Linked DNA regions of Homo sapiens. Changing the gene in region 2 together with the main gene of any one other region gives a genetic interaction. Each region holds a gene or a part of one and is shown on either strand. Other genes may lie near its edges.

Region 1 (3,658 bases), on a different chromosome or scaffold from region 2:
GTAAGTGGTGGGGCCAGAATATCAATGCAGGACTGATTCCAAGGCCCATGTTCCTAACTGCCACATTCTCGGGCTCACTTCTTCAGACTATGCAGTCTTCTCTTCCAACACTATTTCTTCTTTTTTGGAGACGGAGTCTTACTCTGTCGCTCTGGCTGGAGTGCAGTGGCGCAATCTCGGCTCACCACAACCTCCACCTCCCGGGTTCAAGGGATTCTTAGCTTCCTGAGTAGCTGGGATTACAGGCGCCCGCCACCACACCCGACTAATTTTTGTATTTTTCGTAGAGATGGGGTTTTGCCATGTTGGCCAGGCTGGTCTTGAACTCCTGACCTCAGGTGATCTGCCTGCCTCAGCCTCCCAAAGTGCTAGGATTACAGGTGTGAGGCACCGTGCCTGGCCCCAACACTATTTCTATTAATGAGTCAGCCACTGCATATATAAGCAGATATTCCCAGCCCTGCTGCCACCTGCTGCCCCAAATCCCACACCATACCTGAAAGGAAGCATATTTGTAGACAGAGCCACCAGTGAGCTGGGGCACAACAGAGAGTGTGGCCACATCCACATACTGGTTAGGGAAGAGAAAGAGATCTACACAGCAGCCTTGGGCCACACACTCTTTGGCCAGGGTCTGATAGGCACCTGTCTGAGGCTGGAACAGAGTCTAGGGGGAAAGAAAATGGGGAGAAGAAAATGTTCAAATATCTCAGCTCCGCCCTATTTGAAAACTGTATATCTAGCATGGGATATTCAAATTCATGGAAGACTTCAGATCTACTTCCAAGGATTTTCCAATAGTAAAAAATTTTCTTTTATATTATTTTTATTTTTTTGAGACAGGGTCTCACTCTGTCACCCAGGCTGGCATAGAGTGGCATGATCTCAGCTCACTGCAACCTCTGCCTCCCAGGTTCAAGCGATTCTCCTGCCTCAGACTCCCAAGTAGCTGGGATTACAGGTGTGTGCCACCACACCTGGCTAATTTTTGTATTTTTAGTAGAGACGGGGTTTTGCCATGTTAGTCAGGCTGGTCTCAAACTTCTGGCCTCAAAAATCTGCCCGCCTTGGCCTCCCAAAGCGCTCGGATTACAGGCATGAGCCATCATGCCCGGCCAAAAGTTCTTCTTTAAAAAATAAATAAATACAAGAGTCTACCAACAGCTTTGGCATCAGATGGAGTAGAGAAGTATGGCAGCAGTGGAGGTTGGCAGTCACAGATATGGTATTTGAAAGGGTGGAGTGTCTGGTCCTAGCCACCATCAAGAAAGTAGAGTCCCCACTTCCTCTGTAATGAAAAATCCTTCCCCTCCCCCATTTTCCAGTCCCACACCTTCTCCTTGTCTGTATTGATCAGCTTCCTGTCATCTCTGTTCTTCAGTTTCCCTGGGGCCTCTGCAATGGGCAGGGATGTATGGAATAGAAAGAGCTTCCCTGCACACTCAGCAGCCTAGGAAAAAAGAGAGGACTACTTGTTTATTCTTTATTCATCCATCTCTTCCCTTGTCATTTATTAAGCACCAGCTATGTCAGACAGTCTAACACACTGGACAGTCACCCACTACTGAAGAAAGAGAGGTTGTATCCCAGGGGATAAGATGGTCAGAGGAAAATGGAGTTAGAGGAGGTTGCCCGATACTCCAGCCTTACCTTCAGAGCCTCCATTCCAGCCTGGATAACTGGTACAAATACTGTCTCTGTTTCCCTTGTGTCTGCAAACATTTCTGGAATCTGATCCAATAAGCTAAAGAGATAGGTGACGGAAAACAACCAAAATTGCTATACAGATTCCAGATACCTCAGTTCTCGATTCCCTGAAGAGTCATCAAGCCTCTAGAATCTGACAACTCCTGGGCCACAACCCCTTTCCATCTACTGTCCAATACCTCTGTTCAACTCCATGACCTTCTATGGTGGTACCCATGCCACCCCCAACCTTTACCTCCACAATCTGGCTCTTACCTGGTGATAACTGCCCGAGACTCATTGACGTTGACCAGGAAGCCATCCAGCAGTGGCACAAACATGTCAGCCACATCAGACACAACCATCATCTGTGGCTGGGCCAATGAGCTCTTCACATTATAGAAGTGGAGCACCTTATTGTAGGTGACAAAGCCAACGCGGATTGCTGACTCTTCTGCCCCACCCTCCCTGTAGAAGGTGACATTGTTACCTAGACTTGCCACCTTTTCCACCACCCACAACTTCATGACACCAAGCTACATTTCTTCAGTCAACCCAGACACCCTATCATTAACCTCAGGAAACACCTCAGTTCTGTAACTCTCACCTAGGTAGAAAGTCTAACAGTGACTTGAGCTCCTCACAGAGGAGCCTAACAAGACCAGTCCTGATGGCATTGTAGGAGACGTCAATCATGAAGATAAAGGCAGGAGGGCTGGGGAACTTATTGTTCTGCAGAGGAAGAAAATGTTGGGGAGAGGGGGAATGGTAAGCAGGCCAGTTGACTATAGAGAAGTCAGCATCAAAAAGGGACAAAAAAGGGGTGAGGGAAATGATAACAGCCATTCTCAGCTGTCTCATTATCCTCCACTCACTGCTCCTCCCATGCTACCTTCCCTCACCTTGCAGTAATCTACAGTGGCCAAGAATTCATAAGAGCCCAGGGATAGCTCAGGGCGGTCATAAGCATCCACACGTTTGCCGGTATGATCCAGGTGCTGAAAATACTGGGGGGGAACTGTGGGAAGCATGGCAGTGTGTTACTCGAAGATCCAGTTTCAATCTTAGTATTCTGGCCCTAGCTGAGCTCACACCACTATCCCTCATTCCCATGTGCCCTACTTCCCCAGCTCCTGAAAGATGGACCCTCATCTCTCTAACTATTTAATAGAGAACAAGGAAGATACAATCAAGACCTTCCCCCAAATCCCAGCTTCCATGAACATACCATCATTGATACAGCTGCAAAAACAGCACTGGAAACGCCTCCCTCCTTCAATGAACTGCATGAAGGGACACATGTATGCTTTGCAGCGGTTGCAGCGCAAAGGGCCAGATTCCCCATGGTCCACAACATACGGTGAAGCCTAAGGCGCAAAGGGGAAGGGATCAGACATAAAGGAAAACCACAGTAGGTTCAGCCAGGAGATGAGGAAGAACAACCGGAGGAAGAAGGCGCATGGCGCAGATATTCTGTCTGCAGAGGGAGTAGGGAGCACAATGATGAAAGGGAGTAAAGACAAATCACAGGAAAATGTCCCTATGAGTAAAAATTATATAGTTCCCTCTTCCTACATCCCACCCCCAGAGCTGCATTTCTCACTGAAAGAGAAGAGGAAATGCAAAACCGGCCATATCAGACTAGGGGCTGCCATGGGCATATGAGGGAGAAAGCCAAGATTATCTAGGATTCTCCTTTCTGGCCCCATCTCTAATGCCCTTCACTCTTGCTCTAAGAATCTTGATTCCAGCTCCTTCCCTAACCAAATATCTGTAACACCTCCTCCCGTATCCCTGGGATTCTGTGCCAGTTACTGATGCCCCAGGCAAATGTCACCCTACACATAAGAGACCAGTGCCCAACTATCCCCAATGGGACCCAGATAGAAATAGACAAACACACAGAGAAAGACGGAGAGATAAGCAGAATATAAACTGAGCCTTTGGCTTCTAGTAACAGAGAACCCTATCG
Region 2 (3,237 bases):
AAATGATAAATACAGAATTAAAAGAGTCCTTCTGTTTCCTTATAGCCGTGAAAATTGACAAAGTTTCTGAGGACAGTTCTATAATATTAAACATTAGGTAACCACAGATGTTGGGAAACCTAACTACACAAACCGATTTAAAATACTCAAGATGACTTTGTAGTGTTTAATACAATTCAGTTCGTAGTTAAGGGCACAAGACAACATTTAACAAAAATAATCACATCAATTGACCTAGAAATCAAATGCAAATAGATATGAATACAATCTCCAAAATCTGTCTTTTAAGTGAACATTAACCATTTATTCAAAGTTATACAAGAATTTGACGGATTAAAGTCTTCTGTGACATAAAGCCATTTCAAATAGTTTCATGTCTCAGCTGAGCAGGAGGAGAGGGGGTGAAAGAATAAGTGAGTAGGCCCCGTTGGGCAGCTAGACAGTAAAAACAGACTCAACAGCAGCCGCCCCCAGCCTGCTGTCCTCCCTGATTGCCTGCATGTGTTGCATTGGTAGCAGCATGCTGAGGGCCAATTTTAATGCCATTTGCCTGAAATAAAAGAGAACAGAACAATAAATATGACCAGACAATATAGTTTAACTAATTCTTAAAAAACTCATTTAATTCTTTATGATACAATTTTATCAAACAACTGAGAAAAATACAGCAAGTAGATTTTAGCAACAATTAAAACAATATCTCCTAAGGGATGTTCCTTCCTTTTAAAAACACTGTGGAAATGTTTCTGAAAATAATTCTTTATCATACCAGGTACGGGGTAAACAGTTATTGGATAATGCTGCTTTTCAGGAAATTCTCATAATGCAGAAATCATTTAAAATAATTATTGCAAGTAATCTTTAAAGCATAAAAATACCCAAAGCCCATGCTGCTTTAATACAACGTAAAATCTTTTCTCTAGACAGTGTTTCTGTTCCATGTTGAATCAGCTGTACAGGCTAAGGGCATATGAGTGTTCTGTGTCATCAATAATTTCTATGATCCCCAAAGACATGGCAGCTTGCCAAGAACCCACACACAGAGTAGTTCTTTCATTCATCAAACTCACACTTATGTCTTAACCCTCACTCCCTCAAGTGGATTTTACCTAAAAATACAACACTTTGAGAAAAGTAATACAGTAGCTTCAGAAATTAAGCTCTTAAGGAAACTTTACGTCACAGTAAATCTCAGATTTATAGTGCTTGGCAGTTGTTCTGCAACAGTAGTAGCCTTGGGGTTTCTGGCACTAGCTCAGTATTGACAGCAGCTGATGTGGTTTCTTTTCGCTCTTTTGACTCCTCTTTAATAAAAAGCATGCCCTATGGCTCATTGATTTTGCCCCCTCTGGGCTGGTAGCAACTTCTTGAGGAGTCAAGGAGTCAGACTTGGCATTAGGCCAAATAAATAGCACGGCCTGTTGGCTCCCAACAGCACATTACAATCAAAGCTGCATAAGGCACAGTAAAGCAGTCAGCTACTATATGAAACCAGACAGAAACAATGAATGTGCCCTTTTAGATAGAGGCCCAATTACTGTTCAATTTATATGGCATTAGTCTCTGAATGGTGTCACCTTTAAACTAACTCAAGAAGTACCGTCATATAAGCCTAGAAGATAGGATTTAGAAACTATATTACTCCAAATTAAACAATGAAAAAATCATGTACTTTTTGGAAACCTTAGGTAAACTGCTGTTTGTCTGAGCAGAGACTACTGAAGTAATAGAGAGCCTCATTTATGTATAGGATGAGAGAGACATACATAATGGCTTCCTAACACAATGCTTTTCTAACTGCAACTGGGGAGAAACCAGGGCTTTTCTTTCAGAAGCCAGAAATCTTAATACAGAATGGCAAAAATATTTATGTAAGAATAAGTAGGCTACATCCACATAAACATTTTGAAATAAATACAGATAAATGCAGAGTGGGGATGTGGGTCAAGTGATGATCTTTGGTGAACACTCTGAATTAGATGCTTCAAAGCTTTACATTTTATCCTAATCATGTTGACCAAAACAGGATCAAAATAACATTACAAAAAACCCTATGCCAAATGCCAATTTTATATATATATATATGAATTTAGTCTCCTGAAAACATGCTATGCTATATTGGGAGTAATTTCCAAATTTGGTATTTCCCTCTTTCCTGCCAGATAACAGAGAGAGCATCTTGCATTAGTACATAGTACATGCATTTATATACCAGAACATTATTCCCAAAGCAGATGACACCATATGGTCATGTGGATAAAAGTGGATTTTCTTTTCTCTTTGGGGGATTTATATTATTTTGCATTGCTTGCAATGAATGGATAGGGCCACTTACTTTAATCCATTTCCATAGACAAAGTGTTGCTCTACTAGAACATAAATATTTAACTACTATACCACATATACCAATTTTTCAGTTGGATGACTGTAAACTAATGGTGTTAACTGATTATCATGATTGATTTTAGGAATTAAAAAAATTATAAAATAATGAATTATAAAATAAAAAATATAAAATAGTAATCAAAAGTGAACTCTAAATTAATATTGACCAACAATATTTATATGTATATACCTCATTATTAATGTCAAAGACTCCTTCTTGAATTTTTTCATAAATTTCTTTTGCTGTATTAATAAATGCCTGAAATATAGAGAAATTGGTTCATATTATATAAAACCAAAGCAGTAAAATAACATTATATATGCTCTATAGAATATCATAACATTCAACATATGAAAGTCAATCGACGTAATACATATTAATAAAGAACAAAGATATTAATAACATATTAATAAAGAACAATCGATGTAATACATTATATTAATAAACAAGCCCTCATGATCATCAATAGACATAGAAAAAGCATTTGACAAAATCCAACATTTCATGATAAAAACACTCAAGTCGAAATAGAAGGGAACTCCTCAACCTGATCTAAAGAATGGCATCTAAGAAAAACTACATCTAACATCATATTCGAAGATGAAGGCTGAAAGCCTTTCCCCTAAGATTAAGAACAAAGGATGTACGCACATGCTAATTAGCATTACAAACAGCATTATTCACAACAGCCAACAAGTGCAAACTACAGAAATGTTCAGTCAATAAAAAACAAAATTTGAGATATTCAATTAGTAGAATATTATTTGGCCATAAAAAGGAATGAAGTACTGATTCATGCTACAATGTGGATGAACCTTGAAAACACTGTGCTAAATGAAAGAAGGCAGACA

The links. Genes that interact genetically often act in the same process or in processes that back each other up.
Region 1: changes in RAB2A (region 2) and SEC24C together harm fitness less than expected from each alone (positive genetic interaction), as found in Homo sapiens cells (one large-scale study listed by BioGRID).

What each region holds. Positions count from the first base shown.
Region 1 is NC_000010.11:73,764,846-73,768,503, reverse strand, and holds part of SEC24C (protein transport protein Sec24C), read right to left. Parts: intron 3,054-3,658; coding exon 2,915-3,053; intron 2,705-2,914; coding exon 2,589-2,704; intron 2,419-2,588; coding exon 2,294-2,418; intron 2,155-2,293; coding exon 1,963-2,154; intron 1,745-1,962; coding exon 1,651-1,744; intron 1,451-1,650; coding exon 1,334-1,450; intron 668-1,333; coding exon 497-667; intron 1-496. UniProt on the Homo sapiens protein: Component of the coat protein complex II (COPII) which promotes the formation of transport vesicles from the endoplasmic reticulum (ER).
Region 2 is NC_000008.11:60,617,987-60,621,223, reverse strand, and holds part of RAB2A (ras-related protein Rab-2A), read right to left. Parts: intron 2,645-3,237; coding exon 2,576-2,644; intron 551-2,575; coding exon 455-550; 3' UTR 1-454.